Homo sapiens: one gene and its partner. The protein of the gene in region 1 binds, or shares a complex with, the protein of each later gene. Links are inferred from orthologs where the notes say so. Each region holds a gene or a part of one and is shown on either strand. Other genes may lie near its edges.

Region 1 (9,638 bases):
TGGTCATTCTTCTGATGTGGATGCCCTCACCACCTGGACCCCCTCCCAGCTGAGATCACGTCTTGGTATCCCCAGGTGAGGGCTGGGCCCCGTCTGTGCTCACCCCATGCTGGAATCAGGGTCCAGCTCCTTGAAGCTCTCAGCCATCGTGGTGGACAGAGCCATGAGGGGAAGCTTCTTCTGCAGGGAGGGTGGGGCCGGCGATGAGTGTCCGTGCCTCCCTCCACCCTGCCTGAGCACCAGGCCAGCCCCTTGGGGCAGGGGAGGAGGGAACCCAGGAGGGCCACAGTCCCAGATGAGAGTGGAAACAAGATGACAAGGCGTGGTGGGGGTGACATTTCCCTGAGAGCATGGATGGAGCCCCTCTCCATCTGGCGTGCCCTTTCCTCTTCCCAGAAGCCACTTGACTGGGCAGGAAGGAATGACCAAGTCCTACTGCAGACTGGGAAACTAAGATGCAGGGAGGGCAGGGAGCTTGCCCCAGGTCACACAGGTGGAGGGAGAATGGGAGCGGGAGCTCTTTCCCCTGTCCCAGGGTATATATGGCTGACCTAGCCACCGCTGAGTTCAAACGCTCTATGGCTCCCAATTTCCTTGCCTTGGCCACACTGAATTGTCAACTGATTCCAAAACATGGCCCCACACTCCCACCCCATCTGGAGTTACGGGGAATGCCTGCTCTGGGATCAGAGACCAGGGTTCAAACCTCAGTTCTGCCACTTACTAGCTATGTGACCTTGGACAAGTGACTTTATCTCTGAGCCTCCAGTTCCTCATGTGTAAAGCAATGCCTGCCCCTAGGGTTGTGCCAGTGTTCCATGAGACAGTGCACTCATATGTTAGTAACAAGCTGGCGGTTATCAGCCAATAAACGCTGCCTCTTGATTAATAAACGTGTATCCCTCAAAAGCCAGCTCAATTGCTACCTCCTTCAGGAAACCCTCTGAGGCCGCCCCATTGACAGCCTGCTCTTGCGCACTGATTGGACAGAGAAGTTCAGGTGCTGTCAGAAGCCTGGCCTTGGCTTATGGGAACTGGTGCACAGGGAAGTGGGGTAAAGGTGATGGGGAAGGTATAGGGCCTCTTGAGTGCAGTGCCAGAGGGGCCTTGGAACAGAGCAGTCTCCATGCCCTTGGTGCCAGACACTCAGACTGGCAAGGAAACCCCAGCCCCGACCTTGCTTCCCCATTGGATGGAAGTCTCCTGCTCAGGCCCCTCCTTCCCGGGACCCCCCACTCACCACCCGCTTGTCCATGTCTGCCCCGCTCTGGCCCTGCAGACAGGCCTGCAGCCGCTTGTGGATGTTGTGGGCTGCCCGCTTGGCCGGCTCCAGCCGCTGTTCTACCTGGGAAGGAGGTATGGAGGTTAAGGATCAAGAGAGGCTGTCTCCCCCTGAGCAGGAAACTTTCTCCTGTCCCCTGGGGACCCCATGGCCAACAGCTTGAGGAATGACTCAACCCAGGCCCCTACCTGGCGTCCCCGCCCCGGCCCTCTGCTCCGAGACAGCCTGCACAGGCCTGCCTTCCCACCTGCCCGGCCCAGGCACGTACCTGCAGCAGGTCCTCACCCAGGAACTCAGCGGTCTCCGGGGTGCTGCGGGGAGTGGTGGGGGGGGGGGGGAGAGTGCTTCTGCTGAGCCTGCCTGGGTTAGAACGCCCCCTACTTCCCTTCCCCGCAGCAGGGCACCTGGACCCCAGTGCTTCCACTGTCCCTCCCAGCTGAGGCCTGCCCTGGGTGGCCCAGTTGCTTCATCCCAGTCGGAGCACATTCCATGGGGGTGGGAATAGGATACATGGGTTTTTCCTCCTCCACCCAGGGCTGTGTCCTGAGAGAGGGCGGACAGATGAAACTAAAGGGGAGGCTGAGAGACCCACCCGGGGCCCAGCTTTGGGACACAGAAGCCTCTTTTCTGCCCACTCCCAAATCCTCAGCCCACCCCGGGATGAGGAGTATTAGCTGGCCCCAAGAACGGGAAGTGCAGGAGCTCAGACTCCTAGGCACAGTCACACAGCACTCTGGACTACAGCTGTGGGCAGGGGTGCACAGGCCCTTGGCCCCCACCTGGGGACACATGGGGGATGCCAAGGCCCACTGCAAGGTGGTCTGACTGTCCAGGCTATGTAGGCATCTGTGCCAGTGTGAGACTAGAACCAGGTCTCTGGACACCCAGTCCCCTCCCTGGACCCAGAGAATGGGGAACTCCTGAGGCTGGGGGAAGAGGAGCAGAGAAGACAGGCTCTGAGAGGCTCCCCAAACTTCCGGCCTCCGTGCCACCGGCTCAGAGGCTGGGGGTGGGAGCTGGGAGACCTGGGGATATTTCCACCTGAGTCCAGGAAAAGCAGAAACGAGACAGAAGCAGGAGGCCCCTGGGCTGGGGGGAGGGGGAGGGGGAGGGACGCTGCAGGCCAGGGGCAGGCCCCTCCTCCCACCAGGCCAGGACCCATCTCCTCCCCTCGCCCCAGGTCTGTGGCCCTAATCGACCCTCCTCCCTCCCCGGCCCAGCAAGCAGAGGTGGTGAACTGTCCCATTGTCCAGAGGGGACAAGTGAGGTCAGGAGGACCATCCACTTAGAGACTCGTGGAGGCAGAGAAGTCCCAGCGTCCTAGGGCAGAGAGCATTCTCCCGCCTGAAGCCCCCTCCAATCCGGTAAGGGGGGGCATCCCTTCCCCCAAAGGCCACCCTTGCTCCTCCAGCTCTGCCCGAGAGACGGGGGCGGCGTTCAGAGAGGAGGAAGAGAGAGCAGGAGTCTGGCCGCTCAGAGGGTGGCTGCCCAGCTGTCCCCAGCCTCCCCCACCCCCGTCTCCCCCGACCCTTTTACGACCCCTCAAGTCCTGCCGGGGTAAGAGTGGGGCTGGAAGCGGGTGACACTCACCGTCCCAAGCTGCCCGTCTGGGCCAGCTGCCGCATGCGGTGCAGCTGCCTCTTCATCATCTTGGGGGCGAGCTGGGGGCTGCGGGGTCACGGCGGGGGTCGCGGGCCCGGGGAGCCCCCGGTCCAGCCTGCCTCTCCTGCGGCGCGGCTCTTGCCCCGGATGGGTGGGCGGCGCTCTCGCTTCCTGGGCCGCCGCGCGGCTCTTGCTGGCGGCCGGCTCTCTCCTCCCCCGCTCACGACTCCGCCCCCGGCCCCCAGGTCACTCCTCTCTCCAAGTTGGTTTCCTCGCTCTTCCCCGGCTTCCGGGCCCCCGGGCGACCCCCGGCCGGGCCCCCGCTGCTGTGTGTCCGCCGGCCGCGGCCGTCCACAGGTTGTGCCCGGCTCCTCCTCCCCGCAGCGCCCCGCCCAGCCCCGGTGGCGGGAAGCAGGTAAGCCCATTCCTGCCCCTGCGCCCGCAACCCGCCCCAGGCGGGGTGCCTGCCCCACCCGCAGCCTGCAGACCCGAAGTATAAATAACCTTTGCATCCCTCGCAAAGAGGAAAGGGTACCAAGCGAAAGAGGGGTAGGCCTTTCTGACCTGTCCTGGCCTCTCTGGGCCTGCCGCGGATACTGCCTTGCACTCTCTTCCGCAGAGGACCTCTGGCCCCCTGGAACTAAACCCCCCACCACTGGATGACTGGCTGGGAGCTTTGGCTTCCTGGGGCCACGGGCTGCTGTGTGGCCGTGGACAAGCCCCTGGAACTCCGGACTCGCTGTTTCTAATGGTCTGATGGGCCAGCTGTCCTGGGCCTGCCCATTCTGCAGAGTGGACAAGACACCCCTGCCAGCTCCCTTTAAGGGAGGTGCGTGCCACCCCTCAGCCACCAGGAACCCTCCCAGAGCGGTTCGCGACACCCTGTTCTCCACATCTCCTGGCAGTTTGCTCCATCTGTGAAGCCCGTCTCCTCTCATTCCTCCTGGCAAACAGCCTCAGTCCCCCTTCCTTCTTGTAGGGCAATGATGTAGGTGCTGCTCTGACTGCCCCCAAACTCAGTAGTTCTCCTCTTTGGCCCTCCACTCAACACAGAGTTAGGCATACAGTAAGTGCTCCATAACTGCTGGTTTTACAAGATGTGAGCGCCTTTAGGAAACAGTAGGCTCTCCTTACCCTGCACCCCTGTGGCATCAGGAGCCGCAGGCGTGGGGAAGAGGGGAGGGTGTGCCCCAGAGTCCTGCCACACCCTCTGCACTTTGCTTTGTTAGTTTCAGTTTAGTTTGAGACTATTTGAGCCACTACTGTGTGCCGGTGCAGACTGTGTGCCGGTGCAGACTGGGCGCCTCTCAGAGGCAGGACCTTGGCCCCACACATCTCCATACTCCCAGCACCTAGCCCAGGGCCTGGCACACTCACTGGCTGCTTCTCTCCTCCCTAATGAGGCAGGACTCATTGGGGGTGGGAGGAGCTGAGAAGGGAACCCAACAGCTGCCTGCTATGGCCAGAGCCTCCCAGATGGGAGCCCACCTGAGTGTGGAATCCTGGTGGGAAGTTGGGAGGCTCCAAGATCAAAGCTCAGGCCAGGATGAGATGTCAGGCAAGGTTCCCTCCCCCATCTCCCTTTTCCCAACAGGAAGGCTGCTGGCCAGTGACTATGGGTGGCATGGCAAGGGAACCTCAGGTGCCATCCTTCCTGTCCCTCGGGAAGTCTCTGGACTATGTGGTGCCCCTGCTCTGTTCCAGCCAAGCCTCCAGCCCAGACCACACCGGGCCTGGGCTTGTCTGGTTCTGTAGCTGGTCTGAAAGTCCTTGAAGGCAAGGTTTGGCTTACACCTCTGTCTCTCCTAGATTTGCCCAGTCCTGAGCCCCAGCTCCGGCCTGGTGAGGGGTCAGTACACGTGGGTTGTAGCCGCAGCTGTGGTGGAAACTACCTGAGCCATATTATCAGTCTAACTGAGCTCTTGCCCCGCGCTCCTGCCCTGGTCTCCAGACTCCCCTCCAGCCAGACCTAAGGGTCCTGGGCAGGAGAGACACCCTGGGCCTTTGAGTCGGATTCGGGTGGGGCTGCTGTGCCTCCTAGCTGGGTGATGGGTAGATTTTAGGCCCTCCCTTGTCACACCTGGATGTTGAATCATAGAAGGATGGACTCCCCAAAGGTTGGGTTAGGGTTATAGGCTGTTCCTTAGAAGGAATTGTAATCAGAGACTTACGGACTCAGAAGTTTTGATCAGTGGGTGTTGGGATCATGGCCTTTCTAAACTGCAGACACAGAAGGGGTACCTCAGAGCTCCCCAGCCAACCCCTCGTGGGGCCCTTCCCCAATCCAGGGGCCTGTTGGCTTGGGTCATTCTCTACCAGGCTGGTCTTAGCTGGCTCCTGCTAAAGCCTCTGGGACCCGGCAGTGTGCCTGTCACAGTGGCTCAGGCAGCAGGAACAGAGAGAGCTTAAGGGTGTGGAGGAGGCTAGCTGGCCAGGCTGTGGCTGTCATTAGCTGGGTAACCTTAAGTGGGACACTTCACGTCTCTGAACCTCAGCATCCTCCTCAGTAAATTGGAAATAATAGTACCTACCTCACAGAAGCGTTAGGTGAATTAATAGATGCAAGATGCTTATAAAGTGCCTTGCGTTGTTTCTTGTTACCATCATTATTCAGCTTGCCAAGTCAGGAATGGAAAGACCCCTTACCCCCATTCCTGCCCCAACGACCCCTGTGTGTGTCTAGCTGCCTTAGGACAATGGGACTTTTTGTTGTGCTATAGCATATCCTCCAGTGAGGGTGGTATCACTGTCCCCATTTTACAGGTGAATAGCCCAAGGCCCCTGGCCTAAGGTCCCCAGCTGGAAAAGTGGTAGAGGCCAAGTTAGGAAACAGATCTGACAGTCTCCTAAGCCCACGTGGGCTCTCCTGCTGTGCCAGACCCAGACAGCCTTGCCTGGGAGCTCCAGAAATGCTGGCCCTTGGCTCTGCCTTAACCCCTGTGGTTGCTTTGAGGGCCTGGCAGCCTCTGTGCAGATTTGTCTGTGAAAGCCTGGGACAGTCTGGGTAGCATGTGCTAGTAAGGCTTGAGCAGGATGTGGGCAGGGAGGTCAGCAGCTGAGTGGTGGTGGTAACGGGGGTCGGAAGCAGGGGCTGCAGGAGCAGAAACATCCCATTTTAGACACTTTGACAAATTGCCTGTTTGTAGTATCCCTCGGTGCTGCCCTCTGTGTGGACTTCCACCCAGAGCAGCTAGGGGCATAGTGAGATCTCTGGGGCTCTAAAAACTCCCTCACCTCCCTCCCCAAGCCCAAAGGACTTTCCAGGAAATCCTGGGGTGGCCCTAAGGCTGAGAACTCCATTTTAATCCTGATAGCCCTGGAGGAGTGTGTACCCTGAGCCCAGCCCCAGAGGACAGCCCGACAGAGGCTGGGGGGAGGACTTGGGAGGTATGGGGCAATGTGCCATCCTGGTAGACACCTCAAGACTGCTGGCCCAGACTCAGCCCATAATGTGTGACTTCTCTGAGCCTCACTTCCCATTTCACAGGGCATTTCAGAGGCTTAAGATGGGAGGCTATAGGCATCAGGTCCGGGGGCTCCTCTTGCCTGCCTTGCTGGGCTGGTGCCCTGGTTGCAAGGCCCAGAGAGACTGGGGGAGGGGGTATGTCGAGAGACCAGGCAGACCAGGCACAGTAGCTCACCACAACACTTTGGGAGGCTGAGGCAGGTGGATCGCTTGAGCTCAGGAGTTCCAGACCAGCCTGGGCAACCTGGCGAAACTCTATACAAAAAATAAAAATATTAGCCGGGCATGGTGGCACGCGCCTGTGGTCCCAGCTGCTCAGGAGGCTAAGAGGGTAGGATTGCCTGCGCCGAGGAGGTCAGGGCTGCAGGGAGCTGTGTTTACAACACTGCCCTCCAGCCTGGGTGAGAGACCTTACCTCAAACAAACAAACAAAAAAACCAAAAAACTGACTGGGGGCCGGGTGTGGTGGCTCACGCCTGTAATCTCAGCACTTTGGGAGGCCAAGGCAGGTGGATCACCTTAGGTGGGAGTTAGCCTGACCAACATGGAGAAACCCCGTCTCTACTAAAAATACAAACTTAGCAGGATGTGGTGGCGCAGGCCTGTAATCCCAGCTACTCGGGAGGCCGAGGCAGGAGAATCGCTTGAACTCGGGAGGCAGAGGTTGCGGTGAGCCGAGATCGTGCCATTGCACTCCAGCCTGGGCAACAAGAGCGAAACTCCGTAAAAACAACAACAACAAAAAACCGACTAGGCAGGAGCAGGCTCCCAGGCCCTTGCCACTTCTCCTGGCTGCCATAAACAGACGAACAGTGTGATGCGGTTGCTGAAAACCAAAATTAACTGGTGCCTCGGCCAAATCAACAGAAATGGAAGTGGGGCTTCGAGATCTGGGAAGTCCCACTGGTCTTGGCATGGCACTGGGGGTCACCCTTCAAGAGACAGAGCACACGCCTCCCCAGTGCACTGCATCCCAGCCCCTGAGACTGCAGAGCGCAGTGGCCCGGACCTCTGTGCAGCAACACGGTATTTGGGGAAGGACTCCTCCAGGGAGTGGAGGCCCAGGGTCCTTTCCTCTGGTTAGAACCCACCCCAGACTCTCAGACAGATGCAGGGCTTCTGTGGTACCTTATGTCTTTGCTCTCAGGGTGCCACACTGGCTCCCAAGTCCTTGCCAGCTTGTGAACTCTTAGGACAGGGGCTGGCCCAGGGGCTGCTCAGGAAACACTGGCATGACTGACAGGATGGGTGGGTTAAGGACAAGGCAAGGGACAAGGTCCAAAGGCTGAAGGGACCCCACCTTCCCGTCCCCGGAATATCCTGGGTCACTCCAAAGCTGACAGCCTGGCTCCTTTGTCCAAGGACTCCTCAGAGGGACCTTATAGCTCATTGAGTCCCTCTCCCCTTTTCCAGAAAGGAAAGCATCTTCCTCAAAATCACACAGCAAGCCAGTGACCCAGCCAGAACCAGCCCCCAGACTCCCAGCTCACAGTCCCACCTGTTCCCCATGCCAACCTGTACTCCTCCCTGCCATGGCCAGTAATGAAGACTGTGCTGGAGGTGGGACTCTGGCACCCCAAGTGGATGCTGCAGGGGTTATGGTTTCATTTCAGGTAGAAGAAACTTCCAACCGGAGTTATCTTCAGGAGACATCACAAGTGTGGAGGCGAGTCCTGCAGGGTAGGGAAGGGGAACAGGAACGAGGCCACGTGGCTGGGACAGGGTGTCTGGAAGCCTCCAGGGGCCAGCCTCTGTCTGGAGGGCTGTGCCAGGGTGGGAGTCCCACTGTAGGGATCTGATAGGAGGCTCCCGCAGGGTGCAGCTAATGCCTCTTGTCCCCTCAGCAGTAAGGCGGACATGGAGGAGCTCTCAGCCTGCGCTTTCAGTGTGGGCCCAGCAGAGAGGGGCCCCTTGCTTGCTGATGAGTGTTAAAGAGCACACACGCTGGGATGCGGGTGTGCTGGGCAATTCTCCAGCATGTCACAACTATATCTAAGGAGAAGGGTTCAGCGGCCAAGTTCAGATTGGGAAACACTAGATTAGACAAAGTGAAAATGGCTTCTTAAATGAGGGACTTCCCAGGGTCTGTATGGGCTCATCTACTCAGGAGAAACCGTGCGCAGCCTCCCTGGACTCATCTGAGCAGGGAACACTTTCCTGCAGAGCCACACGCAGGGCTGGCCTCCCACACAACAGGGCCCATCTGCCTGGACCAGCGCCCCCTCGCTCCCAGCTGTGTGGCCTCGAAGCCACGCCCAAGCTTGGACCCCAGCCTCCTGGTTGGAGAAAACTGATAGCACTGTGTGGGGGAGAGCTGCCGCTGCGAGTGGCAGGGGCCCAGCTCAGGGTCCCTGGGTCTGCTCCCAAACAAACTGCGATTGGTGCTGGGCAAGGGAGTGATGTCTGGGGGGAGGGAGAAGCTGGGCTTGGACTTCCCTCTGGGGTGCTGCAGCATCGAGGTTGTGTGGAGGGCTGAGCACAGCAGGAGGAAGTCGTGAGCAGCCAGGGGCCTCCCCCTCGGTGTCTGTAGCAGCTGGGGCTCCTGCCAGGCCCTGGCGGTCGCCCACTTCCAGCTGGGACGGTCCTGGTCCGCCACAGCCCAGCGCCCTCTCTGGTGACTCAGCACTGGCCACAGGCCCCTTTGCAGGGCCTTTTCCGGTGCAGGGCCCGGGGGGTGGTGGGGAGGGGGCCCACGGCCTGACCTCCAAAGACGGAAGTGGAGAGGTCTACAGGGCAGCCCTAGGGAACATGGACTCAACCCCTCCCATCTCCCTCAACCTCCAAAGGGCCACGAGAGCAGCTGGTCCAGGAAAAACGACGTTTTATTTTCATAAATACTCCTGCTCTCACTCACACACTGACCCCACTTCTGACCACGGACAGATGGATGGACAGACGTAAGACACCCATAGGAGGCCCCAGCAGAGGCCAATGAATGAAGGAGACACACCGAGAACTCTAGGTGCCCCACAGCCCCTCGCTGGGGCCATGGGCCTCTGGCATTACCCTTGAGCCCCCACAGTCCCTCAGGGGGCCCAATGGCAAAGGGAAACCCCCAGGAGTACGGGCCAGGTGAGGTTCCCCCAGCCTGGCCCCCTGAGGCTGTGACCACAGGGCCAATCCGGAAGAAAAGCAGAGTCAAACCACACACCAGAGTGCAAATAGCTGGGGGTGTAGGCGTCACCCCCCAGTCACTGGGTTCCTATGGAGGAGGCCTAAGCTGGTCCCCAGCTCCAGCATGGCCCCCGAGTTATGGCTGGGCCTTCCCATAAGGCATAAGAGACAGGT
Region 2 (16,300 bases), on another chromosome or scaffold:
GCTATTTTTGATGTATTTGTTTTATAGATATCTTAATCTTCAATATTCAGATTAAAAACAAACAAGACTTAGTGATTTAAAATTATTTGGTAAAAAGGTAAAGGGACAGAGACATCTCATGAAAACATGGCAAAATCTCTTTAAGTTTAATTCAAGCACTTAGAGTTTAATAAGAATATCCCAAACCATTTTTGCTTAATAATATTTCTGTTTATAATTAAACCTTAAGGTACAGTGTTGTAACTGGATTTAAGAATTTAGAGTTTTGTTGTTTCTTCGCCATCAGCGAAATTAAGATTTAAAACCTATAGTTTGCAACAAATTTTAGTTTTTCAGCCTAGTGTCCTAAAACTTGTCTGTCATGGGTACCTAGTAGGTGTCATGTCACAGGAAAGGGATCTAACAAGGGAGTTTGAAGATAGGGGTTTTCCTTGCTCTGCCACTAACTTGCTATGTGACCTAGGGCAAGTTATATAACCTATCTGTGTCACAGTTGTCTGAAATGCAATATGGGGAAAATAAATTCTTAAAATGACAATAAAAAGATTTCTTTTTTTTTTTTGAGACAGAGTCGGCGCAATTTCGGCTCACTGCAACCTCCACCTCCTGGGTTCAGGCGATTCTCCTGTCTGAGCCTCCTGAGTAGCTGGGATTACAGGCACACACCACCACGCCCAGCAAATTTTTGTGTATTTTGTAGAGATGGGGTTTCGCCATGTTGGCCAGGCTGGTCTCAAACTCTTGAGCTCAAACGATCTACCTGCCTTGGCCTCCCAAAGTGCTGGGATTACAGGCATGAGCCACCACGCCTGGCCAAAATATATATATACATATTTTAAGTGAAGATGTGTAAGGACTAAAGGAGCCCAAAGGAGACAGTAGGGGATAAGAAAGGCAAAGAGAGTGGTAATAGATTTAGCAGAATCAAGGATGCCAAAACCTCTTCTGAGAGAGACCTTGATTAAGAGTGAGCTGGTTTGCCTGTAAGAATCTGCGGAAAGGTCAGAAATTAGAGACATTAGTACCACAGAAAGCAGGGGATGAGGCCTGAAGCTGAAATCAAGGGGATCAATTGAGAGCCTATAAAAGGAGGGTTTAGATTCTTCAAACCCCTCCCAACCCCACAGAGTCAGATGACCACCTCTCCTAACCACCTACAGGAGACCAGAGGCATTATATTGAGAAATGCCCGGCCGGGCGCGGTGGCTCACGCCTGTAATCCCAGCACTTTGGGAGGCCGAGGCGGGCGGATCACAAGGTCAGGAGATCGAGACCATCCTGGCTAATGTGGTGAAACACCATCTCTACTAAAAATACAAAAAATTAGCCGGGCGTGGTGGCGGGCGCCTGTAGTCCCAGCTACTCAGGAGGCTGAGGCAGGAGAATGGCGTGAACCCTGAAGGCGGAGCTTGCAGTGAGCCGAGATGGCGCCACTGCACTCCAGCCTGGGCAACAGAGCAAGACTCCGCCTCAGAAAAAAAAAAGAAAAGAAATGCCCCGTAGAGGCTCTGCACTCAGGAGCCTGACCCCCAGCATGGGTCCGGGTAGGCCATTGGCCGAAAATAGTGGAGTGGGCAAAGAGCAGATTTTTTAAAAGTCTGCATACTGAATAGTAAGATTCCCAGCCCTCTTCTAATACCTGCTAGCCAGGGGCCTAATAAGGAAGAGATTGAAATATTCTTTTCTAGGGGGAAAAAGTTGAATGACCCTAGAGAAAAGCCCTACAGATACCAACATTTAGGGATTCTCTTGAAAAAGCGAGTTTACCATCTCCTTTCACTGAAGCTTACCAGTGGCTGTGCCCCTTCCACGCATACAAAACTAACAGTCATCTTTTAGTTGCTCATTCATAGAGAGTGAGTGGCCTGCCAAATCTCTCTAGGCATTAGAGGAAGGTCTCTAACCTGATATTAATAGATAAAGGGTAAAACAAATAGCAGAAAACAGGAACTTGGTGGAAATAAAGACAATGCAGTCAACAGAGGAAGAGTTTAAAAGAACTATTCAGCTTGGGCACCATGACTCACGCCTGTAATCCCAACACTTTGGGAGGCTGAGGTGGACAGTTCACCTGCGGTCAGGAGTTTGAGACCAGCTTGGCCAACATAGTGAAACCCCATCTCCACTAAAAATACAAAAATTAACTGAACATGGTGGCAGGCACCTGTAATCCCAGCTATTGGGAGGCTGAGGCAGGAGAATTGCTTGAACCTGGGAGGCATAGCTTGCAGTGAGCCAAGATTGCACCACCGCATTCCAGCCTGGGTGACAGAGTGAGACTCTGTCTCAAAAATAATAAATAAATAAATAAATAAATAAATAAATAAATAAAGCTATGCATTTCCCACAAATACTGCTTAAAAAAAAAAGAACTATTCTTTGCTATCCTTGGAGAGAGAGATTGCAAATGTCAGAAAACAGGATGCTTTTAAAAACAATAACAATCAGAATAAGAATAAAAATGAATTATTTTTCTTTTATTTATTTATTTATTTATTTTTGATACATGGTCTCTGTCACCCAGGCTGGAGTGCAGTGGCAAGATCACAGCTCACTGCAGCCCCAACCTGCCTCAGCCCCCCAAGCAACTGGGACTACAGGCACGCACCACCACACCTGGCTAATTTTTAAATTTTTTGTAGAGAGATGGGGTCTCACTATGTTGCCCAGGCTGGTCTTGAACTCCTGGGCTCAAGTGATCCTCCTGCCTCAGCCTCCCCCCAAAGGGCTGGGATTATAGGCATGAGCCACCACACCCAGCAAGAATGAATTGTTTAATATTAAAAACATTATAGCCCAAATTTAAAATCCAACAGAAGATGTGGAAAATTGTCTCAGAATGTATTGGGTTGGTACAAAAGTAATTGGGGCTTTTGCCATTTTAATGACAAAAACGTTGATTACTTTTACACCAACCTAATAGAACATAAAGACAAAGACATGGACTGTTGAGAGAACAATAAGAGAGAACAGGTAAGAAAATTAGAAACTCTCGGGAGGCTGAGACAGGATAATCGCTTGAACCCAGGAGGCAGAAGTTGTAGTGAGCCGAGACTGTGCCATTGCACTCCTGCCTGGGCAAGCAACAAGAGTGAAACTGCGTCTCAAAAAAAAAGAAAAGAAAATTAGAAACTCAATCCCAGGGCTTTAATATCCTTTTTGTAGGAATTCCAGAAAGAAAACAAAAAAATAATGATAATAACGAAGAAACAAATGGAGGAGAAGTTAGGAGACGTTAAATGTAAGGAAAAATTTCAGAGTTTAGTGAAGTGAGTATTTTCCAAAACAGAATTATATAAATCTCTGGATTTATGAGTGCCCAGAATAATATATGAAAGGCCATATCATTGTGAAAGTTCAGAACACCAAGAATATTAGAAGATCCTAAAAGTTTCCAAAGAGAAAAAAAGCAAGTCATTTTAAGGGGTCAGGAACCAGAATGGGATTGCATCTCTAAACAATACTTACTGGAAACTAGATAGTAGCAGATAAATAAATGCCTTCAAAGTTCATTTGGGAAAATTATTTTCAACCTAGAATTCTATACCCAGACAAACTGTCAAGATAGAAGAAAGGTATTTTTTTAGACATGCACCCTCCCTCCCCACCTCTGTGAAGCTACTGGATGATGAATTCCAGCAAAATGAAGAAGTCAGTCAATAAGTAGAACTGAGCCCGGGCACGGTGGCTCACACCTGTAATCGCAGCACTTTGGGAGGCCGAGGCGGGCAGATCACGAGGTCAGGAGATTGAGACCATCCTGGTGTAACACAGTGAAACCCCGTCTCTACTAAAAATACAAAAAAATTAGCAGGGCGTGGTGGCGGTCCCCTGTAGTCCGAGCTACTCGGGAGGCTGAGGCAGGAGAATGGCGTGGTGAACCCGGGAGGCGGAGCTTGCAGTGGGCGGAGATCGCGCCACTGCACTCCCGCCTGGGTGACAGAGCGAGACTACGTCTCAAAAAAAAAAAAAAAAAAAAAGTACAACTGAGAATATTTGAAATGTTTTAGTGATTGGAAAAAATATCACTAGATGTTTGACAGATCTTTGAAGTATTTGAGGGAAAATGGTGATAGGTATATAGAAGACTAAATGAAAACAAGGCAATATCTCTAGGATAAACAAAGATGTATAATAAAGGAAACATTCATAGTATATTATTGGCTAAGCAGTGAAGAATATTTATATCATCCTAATAATGTAAACACTAACTATTGATTTATCCCCCAAATTGTGATTTTATTGTTTTGGGGGGTTATGGATGGTGATAGTATAATACTGCTGTCATAAGTTAATAGATAATGGATAAATCTAATGAATTCAGAAAGAGCAAGATGATGTTACTAGCTAAAAATCTGAAGGAGGCTGTCTCTGCGGAAACATACAGGGGAAAGGGATTGCTGTTTTTTATTACCAGATTTTTACAAGACTATTTTTAGCCTTTTTTACAAGACTTTTAGTACTGCTTGAGTTTTAACCATGTTATGTATATTACTTTGATTAAAAAGAAAAATTAATTTAAAAAAATGAGCATACTAATACCATTAATTTTCTCCTTCTAGAGAAAAATGTTTAACAGTTAGGTTTAGACTTGTTAATTATAAAAATATAGTAGTCTTACTGTAATGAGATTTTCTAGAAAGCGGATTTACTCTAAGGCAGTTCAGATTTGGTCCCCAGCTGAGAATTATAGCCTGGAAATACCAACAGAAAAATCAGTGTCATTTGAAGGACAGTCATCTGTGCAGCCTGTGCATGAAATCATGGGTCTGAATTAGGCCCCCATTCAAGATGCGGGGGTGTGGGGTTTGTGTTTTGCTGAAGCTGTGGTTGCAAATCTTTGCTTTAGGATGAAAGGTGGGGCTCTCTGTTACATTTGAACCTTAGTTGCTACTCCTACCTCACAGCTAGTGTTTCTTTCTCTTCATAAAATAAATTGATTTCCTGGTCCCTTGGAAAACCTCCAGACTGCTTTCTGGAATCATTTTCATATAGCATGTTTGTTAATTTGAGCTCTTGACTGAGTCCCAGTGAGATGTAGGCAGGAACACAGACCTGATACAGAAATAGTCCTCTTTTGGAAATAACAATAGCTACTGTTTATCGAGCACCTTCTGTGCTTTGGGCACTCTCCCTACATGATTCCTAATCTTCATAATAACCCTGTGAGATAACTACTCTTATGACTACCTCCCATTTTTCAGATGAGAAAATTGAGGCTCTGAGAGGTGAAGTCGTTGCCCATGGCCCCACAGTGAGTGGCAGATCTGAGACTCAGCGCTAGCCTTTGTGACACATAACTCGTGACCAGCAGGTAGTGCTACCCGATTGAAAAAATGTGAGACTTAAAGGGATGCATGTGTCCCTATACAGTGGCAAAAACTGGTATGACAGAAGTGATGTTTTAAGCTATGTTATCCTTTAGTTGGACATACACTGGACCCACAGAGCTAGAGTACCTGGCAGGCTCTTGCTGGACAATGTTTGCTGAATCAGAGAAAGTGGGCTTTGTTGGCATTTGCATGTGAAATACTGTGCACATACCTCAAGATCTTTGCTGTTCCCCCCCTAAAGCTACTAGCTATGCTGGAAACAGTGAAGGGGTCAGCCAGACCTGGGGTCACCTTGTCCTGGGGTCCCAAGCCAGGCCTCCTGTCAGGTTCATCTGTCTCTGTTCCACCTGCACTCACACCCAGTCTTGCTGCTGAGAGATGGAGCATCCACATCCTGAATCCTGCCTCCTTCCCTTGACACACTTCTATGGTGGGTGCCTGCCCAACTTTTTCTTAATAGGACTAAATTCCAAATTAAAAAAAAAATTCAGTCTCTCTCCTCTAATCATCCAAGAAGAGTCCTCTTTTGGTAACTTGTTCTAGAACTATGCCTATCTTAAATTCAGAAATTGCTTTCAAATGAATTAAATTTTAGAAATATCCATTCCTGTTCGTCCTATTCCCAGTGAAAATAAGCAACTCTTCCCTCTTCCAAAACAGTGGATTTCTTTTCTTTTTTTCTTTTTTTGAAATGTAGTCTTGCTCTGCTGCCCAGGCTGGAGTGCAGTGGTGCAATCTTGGCACACTGCAACCTCCACCTCCCAGGTTCAAGCGATTCTCCTGCCTCAGCCTCTCGAGTAGCTGGGATTACAGGTGTGTACCACCATGCCTGGCTAATTTTTGTATTTTTAGTAGAGACAGGATTTCCCCATGTTGGCCAGGCTGGTCTTTAACTCCTGACCTCAGGTGATCGCCCACCTTAGCCTCCCAAAGTGCTGGGATTACAGGCGTGAGCTACTGTGTCTGGCCCCCAAACAGTGGATTTCCATCTTACATATGCATACAGATCATCTGGGAGCTTCAGATCCAGCCCATTACACATATTCTGATTCTAGACTAGAAACCAAGACTCCGCATTTTAAGCAAGCCCCACATTATTCAAAATAGATTGTCCATGGATTATGCTTTTAGAAACATTGTTCAGATCCCATGCTTTAATGTTGGGGAGTTTATCCTTTCCTTCTAAATATTTTTTTTTTTTTTGAGATGGAGTCTCGCTCTGTTGCCCAGGCTGGAGTGTGGTGGTGCGATCACTGCTCACTGCATCCTCCACCTCCCAGGTTCAAGCAATTCTCTGCCTCAGCCTCCCGAGTAGCTGGGATTACAGATGCCCGCTACCACGCCCAGCTAATTTTTTTGTACTTTTAGTAGAGATGGGGTTTCACCATCTCAAAAAAAAAAAAAATCTTAAATAGCTCTAGTTCCCTGAATTATTTTCTCCTAAGACATGTTTTCCCAACAGTTAATGTTACTTATTTCATCTTCTGATCTTACTCATATTATCCACCTTTCACTTAAATTGGAAATTTTCTGCCATTTTACAAAGTTCAAGACTTTCCTACCTTCCTACCTCCTGGCTGTGTGAACTTGGACAGAATACTTCCCCCTCTCCCTCCAGTCAGTTTTCTTACTTGTGAAATGGAATTAAACTATACAAAATCATTAGGTTACTGTGAGGCTTAAGAGTGCCTGGCACATATTACATGCACATTAAAAATGTATTTCTTCCCAAACTAATGCAACATAGCAAACAAGTTAGTTCACAGTCTTTAATTTCTTTCCTTTTCCCTTTCTTTTTAGCTAATAGCTTTTGGGTCTTAGGCTGATTAGAAGGAATCCTTCTTGGGGTGTTCTTCTGGTAAGAAGATTGAAGCTCTCCTTTATTTGCTTGTAACAGAATGCTCTTCGTATCTTTCAAAAGCGTCAAAAGCTGGATATGGAAAGTATAGGCCAGGTTTGATACAGAAGTGTAGTTTGGCAGTTTTTTCAGTATCCATTGCCACTAATTCAGTATTTTGTTAGATCTGTTGATGTATGGTTTTATAACTAAAATTAAAAAGATTTGGGTACAGTTTATAAGCATTATTCATTTTAAGAGGATTTAAGAGGATAAGATCATTTTAGACTCAAGAGCAGAATATTAGTAATAATAATTAGCTTAAAAAAATAAACATATACCAATATAAAGAACAGCACAAGGCAAGCAAATATCTGGGCCTATATTAACAGACGGTATTCAAGGATATGGCTAGAATTTCCAAAATGCCTAATAATGTGTAATTCTTGGCATTAAGCCGCCAATTTGAATATGGCCCTTTAATATGAAATGCTATATAATGACAGACTTTATTATAGTCTGATCCAAGGCCCCTGAACTTTCCAAAAGGGCAACAAAACAGACAGATACTGTATTTTTTCACTAGTTGGTACTGGTGGCACCCTTTTGAGTGTTATTTTTGGCATTACGTGTAGAGGTTGACAGATTCAAGACAACACTAAACATGTTAGCAGTCACCACACGCAGGCTGTCCAGCAGAATGACAGCGCTTCCCAGATCCTAGAAAGCATCCAGAGTCACTGCACCCATCCCCTGGGGGCCCTGTAGTCCTGCATCTCCAGATGATGGGAGCTGCAAACTTCCCTGATGGTGCCCTCTTGGATGCTCATGAGGCCTGATCTGGTACCACGACTCTAGCAGTAGGTCCATTCAATGGCAGTAAAAATACATGTTGTATGTTGATCAGAATTTGGCAGGACACATGTGGAAAGTTAATGACATCCTGGCCGAGAACCCCTGTGATATACACTGGTTACATCCTGTCCAACTGGAGTTTTTATGTGCTGTTTTTGGCAGAGCCAAGTGAAGATCTTGTTACTTAGCCATTCCTGAGGTACTGAAGATACCCGGGTTTTTGTCATTACAGGATAGGCTAGAAAGTAGCCAGGGTCTCATAACCAAGGCTTTCTCTGAAACATATAATGACAATGCTAGTTATTTGACCAAAGATATCCAATGCTTTAATCCACTTGGAATTTATTCTTGATGTGAAGGGTCAGCATCATCCACTGGTCGGGAGCCTGATCCTTGGAGCCAGGCAGACCTGGGTTGAGTCCATCTCCGCCTGTTTCCAGCTGTGGGCAAGGTGTCTGACTTCTCTGAGCATCTGTGGGGTTTGTTTGTTTTTAAACCTGAAGAATTGGGATAATCTGTTTCCTCACAGAATCATTACGCAGATGCAATACAGTTAATGAAGGTAACATGGCACATAGGAAGAGCACAATACACGTCAGCTCTTACTCTTCATGGCTAGAAGATGTGGACTAAACTTCCCCCTTTACAGTTTTGTGATTAACACCATTTATGAAAGAAATAAATGAAATAAATTCCTTTTCCTGTCATGAGGGGAACTTACCTGATTTTATTGAATTATTTGGTGCCATTGAGTTCCTTATTGTTTCCCTCTGACCTAGATTTCTGGGTGTGCGCCAGTAACACGACTGTGATTGTTGCTGCTTTATAACATTGTCTGTGGTCAGTCCAAACAAGAGTTTAAAATAATTGAATGAAATGGATTTTAAACAATGGTCCCCCCACCCTCACCCCGTGGCACTCGGCCAAAGGAAGAGGAAAAGTTCTCTGTTAAAGAAAATGAATCAGAGAAGAGGCCCAGACCGTGCCTCCGAAAATTCTCATTGTAGGGACTAAGTCCTCTCACTCTGAACTCACACCCGTCTGTTCGCAGCCTGACCTCATATCCTGGTCTGGATGTGCGGCCTCACCGGGGTGTCGTGCGCACGTGTGGTTGTCCTGTGGGTGCCAGCTCTGACTTCCTCCCCAGACACCCACTGCCTCAGCCTTAATCACAGGACGCGCGTTGAGTAGAAATGAGACCAGTTAGTATTGGTAACTGCAGAGGAATATGCATTTTCACCAGCGTTCTCGGGTCAGAGGGTTTGCCTGGCACCGCGTACTGGGAAACTCGCCAAAAGCGGTGCAGGTTGGAGACGCCCCAGGCCGCGGTGGAGTTGCGCGCGGCTTCTAAAGTGGAGTGGAGCAGGCCTGCACCCTCCCCGCCGGGGCTGGGACGGCGCTTCCAGGCGGAGAAAGACCTCCGCGGGCCGCGCGCGGCCTTCCCCCTGCGAGGATCGCCATTGGCCCGGGTTGGCTTTGGAAAGCGGCGGTGGCTTTGGGCCGGGCTCGGCCTCGGGAACGCCAGGGGCCCCTGGGTGCGGACGGGCGCGGCCAGGAGGGGGTTAAGGCGCAGGCGGCGGCGGGGCGGGGGCGGGCCTGGCGGGCGCCCTCTCCGGGCCCTTTGTTAACAGGCGCGTCCCGGCCAGGCGGAGACGCGGCCGCGGCCATGGGCGGGCGCGGGCGCGCGGGGCGGCGGTGAGGGCGGCTGGCGGGGCCGGGGGCGCCGGGGGGGCGCGCGGGCCGAGCCGGGCCTGAGCCGGGCCCGCGGACCGAGCTGGGAGAGGGGTTCCGGCCCCCGACGTGCTGGCGCGGGAAAATGTTGGAGATCTGCCTGAAGCTGGTGGGCTGCAAATCCAAGAAGGGGCTGTCCTCGTCCTCCAGCTGTTATCTGGAAGGTAAGCCCGGGCCGCACGGGTTGGGCTGAGTAGCCGCGCGCCCTCCCGCTGCTGCTGGGCCCTTCCTAGGCCTCGCCGCCCGCGCGCTCCCGCCTGCGCCCTCCCCGGGTCTTGTCTTTTTTTTCTTTCTTCCCTCTTCTCTTCTCTTCTCTTCAGTTCTCTTATATTCTGTCTCTCTTTCTTTCTCTCTGTGTCTGTCTCTTTTCTCTTCTCTTGTCTCTCTCTTTTTCTCTCTCTCTGTCTCTTTCTCTTTCTCGCGATGGCCCCTAGGCGCCGCCGGCGGAGCGTGGCCCCCAGCCCCGGCACCAGCCCCGGTAGAGCCACGCCGGATGGTGACGGCGGCGTCCGGGGCCCCACAGTGCGGGCTCCCCCGAAAAAGTTTGAGAAAGCCAACTCGCCAGGCCTTAACATCCCTGGGATCCCACGTTGTGGAATTTCCACCGTTAATTGGGACTGTGTGTTAAAAAGATCGACCCGTGTTTGTGAAAACATGCGATTTCCATTAAGCATCATGTACACAAGGAGCACCACTCTACCATTTATGGATACAGAATTTCAAGTGATCTTTCCATCTCCCCCACCCCCATCTTATCTACAGACCACGAAGAGGTCTTAGGAATTCGCTCTCTTTTCAGGGGAGGGGAGCCCATTTAAGAAGGCGTTTCCAAGGAGTCCCCCAGAGTACTGGGGTGTCATGTTCGTTTCCTTAAGTGAAGCTCAGGGCCAGGAGGGCTTCACTTTTGCGTTCTTTCTACCTACTCTCCTTCTCTAATTACATCTGTTTTATTTTATTTTTCTTTCCTGTTGTAGTCTTTAGTTTTATAAATGGAAAAAAAGTAAATTAAGGGTTATGGGTCTTCACTTTCGTAGCTTCTAGGTGGGTATGAAATTGATCTGATTTGAGACTGGTGCTCCCAGACCATTGCCTTCAGCAGAAAGGCTATCTGTGCTTCAGAGATGGAGTGGCACTTGGACTTCTCTGTTGTTTTCAACTAAGAATATAAGAGTAAAAATGTGGCCGGGCGCGGTGGCTCAAGCCTGTAATCCCAACACTTTGGGAGGCCGAGACGGGTGGATTATTTGAGGTCAGGATTTCGAGACCAGCCTGGCCAACATGGTGAAACCCTATTTCTACTAAAAATACAAAAAATTAGCCGGGCGTGGTGGTACACGCCTGTAATCCCAGCTACTCGGGAGGCTGAGGCAGGAGAATTGCTTGAACCCGGCAGGGGGAGGTTGCAGTGAGCCAAGATCGCGCCACTGCACTCCAGCCTGGGCGACACAGCAAGACTCGGTCTCAAAAAAAAAAAAAAAAAAAAAAGAGTAGAAAGAAATGTGAAGCTCACTTTAGATCAAGTAGGATTTCTGCTAGAATGCCATGTTTTTCTTTTTAAAAAAGCAGGAGAAATAAACAGGCCTCATTTATTTTCTAACCTATTTTTCTTTCCTTAACCTCTGACTCTACCCTGAAGGCCTGCTTGGAGTCACATATGCAGATCGCACTAGTGATGTGGGTGAAACCTGTTTGCCCTTCTTGCCACAGTTTGTGTACCTCACTCCTCTTCTGTCTCTGGGATTCCAGGGGGCTGAATGGCCCAGAGAAGGCTCATCTAGGTGGAGTGGGCTCACAGAGCCTAGCATTTGGAGGGTGGAGATTGTTTATTTGTCCCTAAAAGTTGATGTCTGAGCATTCCAAATCATCTTCAATTAATACATCGCTTATTTTTTCCAAGTTGCTCAAAATTCTGAGCACATTCTCATTTACATCTGTATCGAGTTAGTGTTAGGCATCATCATCTCCACTTTGCAGATGGGTGCCTAAGGCGGGGATGAATGGACTTTTGTAAGTGCAGAGCTGGAGCAAAGTTTAGGTCACAGCTTTGCCAAGTCATTGTTTTGTTTTCCTGGGAGTAAACCGGAGATTTAGTATGGACCTGGCTGGTTTAATTATTGTTTTGGGAAAAAAATCTAAAACTCATTCCAACATGTCTTGAAATGAATTATAATGTTGACTCTAAAGTCTCAAAAAAAAAAAAAAGTTCTAGTACAGCAGACTGCCTTGGGTTAAACCTTCTTCTAGGAAGGTGTCACTCTAGGAATTCTTTCTTACTGAGTTTTCTTCTTTTCGTTGTTATAGTTAATTAGAGAAAGTAAATGGAATTATCATTTTGTAGTTGGTAGACTTTAACAAGCCTCAGCGATAGTCTTTTAAAGACTGGAAGTGCTATTTGTCTTTTGGGAAAAATAGTTCCTAACATCTGGATGAGTAATCCAGGCTTTCCACTTTCACTGACAGCCTAAATCAGTCAATCAGTGTCGATCAGTCAGTCAGTGTTTATTGACGCCCACTCAGGGTCCCAGGCATTCCCTGTCAGGGAGAGAATTGAATGAGATCAAGTTTTTCATTGTTCTATCAAAGAAGCTTCCACCATAAATGTGGTTTGATGGTGCATGCTACCTGCTACTCAGCCTAGCTGTCAAAGCAACACTGGTAAACATAAAGATGGCTAGCAATTATTAAATGCTTACTATGTGCCAAATACTGTTTTATTACTCTATGTGATCTGATATAGTTATATTTCATGATAGCACTATGATTATTTCCATTTTATAGATGAGGAAACTGAGTCACCAAAAGGTTAGGTAACTTGTCTAGGGTCACAGAGCCAGTGAGTGGGGGTACTGGAATTTGAACTCATGCTATCTGGCTTGGGAGAGCCCACTTTTAGCCACTGGATGCTCTACTGATGTCTCTTTTGGAATTCACTGTGATTTTCAAAATGGTATCTCCAGAAACTCCTCCAATTAATCCCTGAAATGTAAGGGTAGTCTCTTTTTCTTTTCTAGAAACCTGATCCTGGCAAAATGATTAGCTTTAACAGTAGGATTAATTTTTTTTAAATGTATATAAAAATACTTGTATGTAAGAAATCCTAAAAGGGTATTTAGTGAAAAGTAATTCCCTCTCCTATTCATTTTCCCCACCTAGAGGCAATCACCCTGGAGTTTTATGTGTGTCCTTCTAGAAATACTGTGTGCACATATAAGCATTTATTATAACATGTGAATTTTGCTCTCCAGCTTTTTGTGAATATGCATGTTTATAGCAGTATCTATTCACCAGGACCGCATTTAGCTTTGCAATATTCGGTCTACTTTGAACACTGAATTTTCTGATTATTTCTTTCCCCTGGAGACGTCAAAGAAAACATGAACACTAGCCTTTTGAATTCAGGGTTTTCTTTTCATTTTATTTTCATTTGTTCATGTGTTTGTATTTACATACATTGTGCCTGAATATTGTACATGTATGTGACAGTTGTGTACTGTAGAATCAAAAACTAATGTCTGTGAACTGAACTCTTCTTGAACTTTTTGTTGTTGTTGTTATTGTTGCTTTTGGAGATAGGGTCTTGCTCTGTCACCCAGGCTGGACTGCAGTGGCACAATCACAGCTCACTGCAGCCTTGAGCTCCTGGTCTCAAGCAACCCTCCCACCTCAGCCTCCCAAGTAGCTGGGGCTGCAGGCATATGCTACCTGACTAATTAAAATTTTTTTTTTTTTTTTGTAGAGACAGGGTCTCACTATTTTTACTAGTTTGCCCGGGCCAAGCCAGTGTTGAACTACTGGCCTCAAGTGATCCTCCCACCTTGGCCTCCCCAAAGTGCATCCCTACAGGCATGAGCCACTGCACTCAGCCTGAACTTTCGAAATTTATTTTAAGGGCCCACTTTTAAATGCTTCTTTTCAGCAGCTAACTTTCCAGCGGATGCTTCATGTGGTGCCAGCCATACAGATACGCTTTTAGAACTTGAGCTTTGGAGAAGCTTATGCTTGCTTTCTGCTCTCTCCTGAGGTCATCAGATACTTCCCTTGTTCAGTAACAAAGAAAGTGAGACTCTTTCTGTTACCTAATAAAAGGCCAGTCTGTCCATTTCATTTTGGGTGCTATTAACATTGTTGACCATTTACAATGTCACAGGCCCTGGCACTGAGCACATCATGTGCAGCCTCACTTAATTTTCACACCAGTGCCCTGAGGTTTCTAGAAAAGAGGAAGGGCCCCAGTTTAGGTGGCAGTACTTTTCAATTTGGAGGCAGGAGATCCCAGTTTTCCTCTGACCTCTCTGAGCTTCCGTGTTTTTACCTCTAAGACAGAGAGACCAATCTCTGTTCAGCCACCTTAGAGGATTGTTTTGAGGGTCTATAAGATGATTGAGGGAAAGCTCTGAAACTGGTAAGAGTTAAATGTATGTTTGTGTTATGTTGATACGAGATTCCTCTGAGATGCTCTTTAGTCCAGGCAGGTTTATGGCTCACACAGCGTTCCTAGGGTCTCATTCTTCTGCACAGGCAGGCAGCTCCCGAGCCAGCCAGTCTGGACCCAAATGCCACCTGTGCTCTTGGCTGGTCTTGCGCATTCACCGAGGCTCACTGTACCTTGGTGTTCCCATTTCTAAAATAAGGCCTGTAGTAATCCCTACCTCACTGAGTTGTTGAGAGACTTCATGTAAATTGTTTAGCAGGGAGCCTGGCACAGAACAAGAGCCTAGCAGAAAAGTAAGCTGTTGTTACTTTAAGCAAATATTTAGCAGCCTAAAATGGTGGCTTTACCAGTTTCTGTAATGGTTGAAGTGATGACAGAATTCAGCCAATCCCACCCATAGTTTTTCTTGCTAATAAAGCAGTTTGTTTCTAAGTGTGTTTTGATGCGTATAATTAATACTTCCTGTCCTTGATTTTTGGCTGAAAAATGTCTTCTCTTCCTCGCACCCTCTGTTATTCCCGTAGTGAATATTTTCATTGTGGAAGAGAAATTCCCATTGGCTCATGGTTGGCATTTTATTTCTCCTGTCCAGAGACAATATTTCCACAGCCTCAAACGTGAAAACTGAAAATCTGGTGCCACTTACCACCTTGTAAAATCAAGTCATTGTAATTGTGCCAGTATAATCATTGATCTGAAATAAAAGCAGAAAATAAATCAATGGGTAGCTTTCTTAAATACATAAGAACTAAAGATCAAATGGGATATTGGAAGACTTTAACTTTTCCTCCATAATGGTGGATCTTAATTAAACACACAGAAGAACAATTTATAAAATAAATTCATAGGTTTGTTTGTTCTTTTTTAGTGTCAATTTTTAAAACTATCTCTTTTTTAATTAAAAAAAATAGAGATGGGTCTCACTATGTCGCCCAGGCTGGTCTCAAACTCCTGGGCTCAAGCAATCCTCCCACCTCAGCCTCCCAAAGTGCTGGGATTACAGGCATGAGCCACTGCACCCAGCCTAAAACTGTCTCAAAAGTAGACAGCATAATGAACTCCCATGTACTTATGATGTGGCTTTAACAATTATCAGCTTATAGTCAGTCTTGTTTTCTTACATAATAAAGTTACAGTTTCAAAGCCATTAGGAAGAATAGCTTGCTAATTATAATTACTTAGTTTTGATAGTGTAACTTTGTCCTCAGATGGGTAGAATCGTTACTCTGGAACAGGGGTGTCCAATCTTGGCTTCCCTGGGCCACATTGGGAGAAAAATTGTCTTGGGCCACACGTAAAACATACTAACGATAGCTGATGAGCTAAACCAACAAAACAAATCCCACAAAAATCTCATTTCTTTTTTTTTTTGAGACAAGAGTCTCACTCTGTCGCCCAGACTGGAGTGCAGTTGCACGATCTCAGCTCACTGCAAGCTCCGCCTCCTGGGTTCACGCCATTCTCCTGCCTCAGCCTCCCTAGTAGAGGGTACTACAGGCGCCCGGGGGTTTCACCATGTTAGCCAGGATGGTCTCCATCTCCTGACCTCGTGATCCGCCCACCTCGGCCTCCCAAAGCCCTGGGATTACAGGCGTGAGCCACTGCACCGGGCCAAAAATCTTATAATGTTTTTAAGAAAGTTTGCAAATTTGTTAGGCCACATTCAAAGCCGTCCTGGGCCATATGCAGCCCGTGGGCCATGGGTTGAACAAGCTTGCTCTAGAAATTGGTTTTCAGGCCGGGCGCGGTGGCTGACGCCTGTAATCCCAGCACTTTGGGAGGCCGAGGCAGGTGGTCACCTGAGGTCAGGAGTTCGAGACCAGCCTGGCCAACATGCTGAAACCCTGTCTCTACTAAAAATATAAAAAATTAGCCAGGCGTAGTGGGGAGTGCCTGTAATCCCAGCTACTCAGGAGGCTAAGGCAGGAGAATTACTTGAACCTGGGAGGCAGAGGTTGCAGTGAGCCGCGATCTCACCATTGTACTCCAGCCTGGGCAACGAGCAAAAACTCCAGCTCAAAAAAAAAAGTTGGTTTTCAAATCCTTCTTTCTTTACCATGTTACACCATAAATATTTTTGTTATATTGCGTGTGTTGAGTACTGGTGATAGG

What was found.
Region 2: the proteins of SH3BP1 (region 1) and ABL1 are in contact, whole or in part, in a crystal structure (PDB 1ABO), measured with the Mus musculus proteins. The link is inferred for Homo sapiens from one-to-one orthologs. Residues at the interface, in NP_001303613.1 of Mus musculus: Ala607, Pro608, Thr609, Met610, Pro611, Pro612, Pro613, Leu614, Pro615, Pro616; in NP_033724.2 of Mus musculus: Tyr70, Phe72, Ser75, Gly76, Asp77, Thr79, Asn94, Glu98, Trp99, Trp110, Pro112, Asn114, Tyr115.

The regions. Positions count from the first base shown.
Region 1 is NC_000022.11:37,633,081-37,642,718, reverse strand, and holds the start of SH3BP1 (SH3 domain-binding protein 1), read right to left. Parts: upstream 3,051-9,638; 5' UTR 2,932-3,050; coding exon 2,873-2,931; intron 1,594-2,872; coding exon 1,551-1,593; intron 1,346-1,550; coding exon 1,241-1,345; intron 888-1,240; exon of another isoform or gene 181-887; coding exon 104-180; exon of another isoform or gene 1-103. UniProt on the Homo sapiens protein: GTPase activating protein (GAP) which specifically converts GTP-bound Rho-type GTPases including RAC1 and CDC42 in their inactive GDP-bound form.
Region 2 is NC_000009.12:130,825,606-130,841,905, forward strand, and holds the start of ABL1 (tyrosine-protein kinase ABL1), read left to right. Parts: upstream 1-9,648; 5' UTR 9,649-9,841; coding exon 9,842-9,920; intron 9,921-16,300. UniProt on the Homo sapiens protein: Non-receptor tyrosine-protein kinase that plays a role in many key processes linked to cell growth and survival such as cytoskeleton remodeling in response to extracellular stimuli, cell motility and adhesion, receptor endocytosis, autophagy, DNA damage response and apoptosis.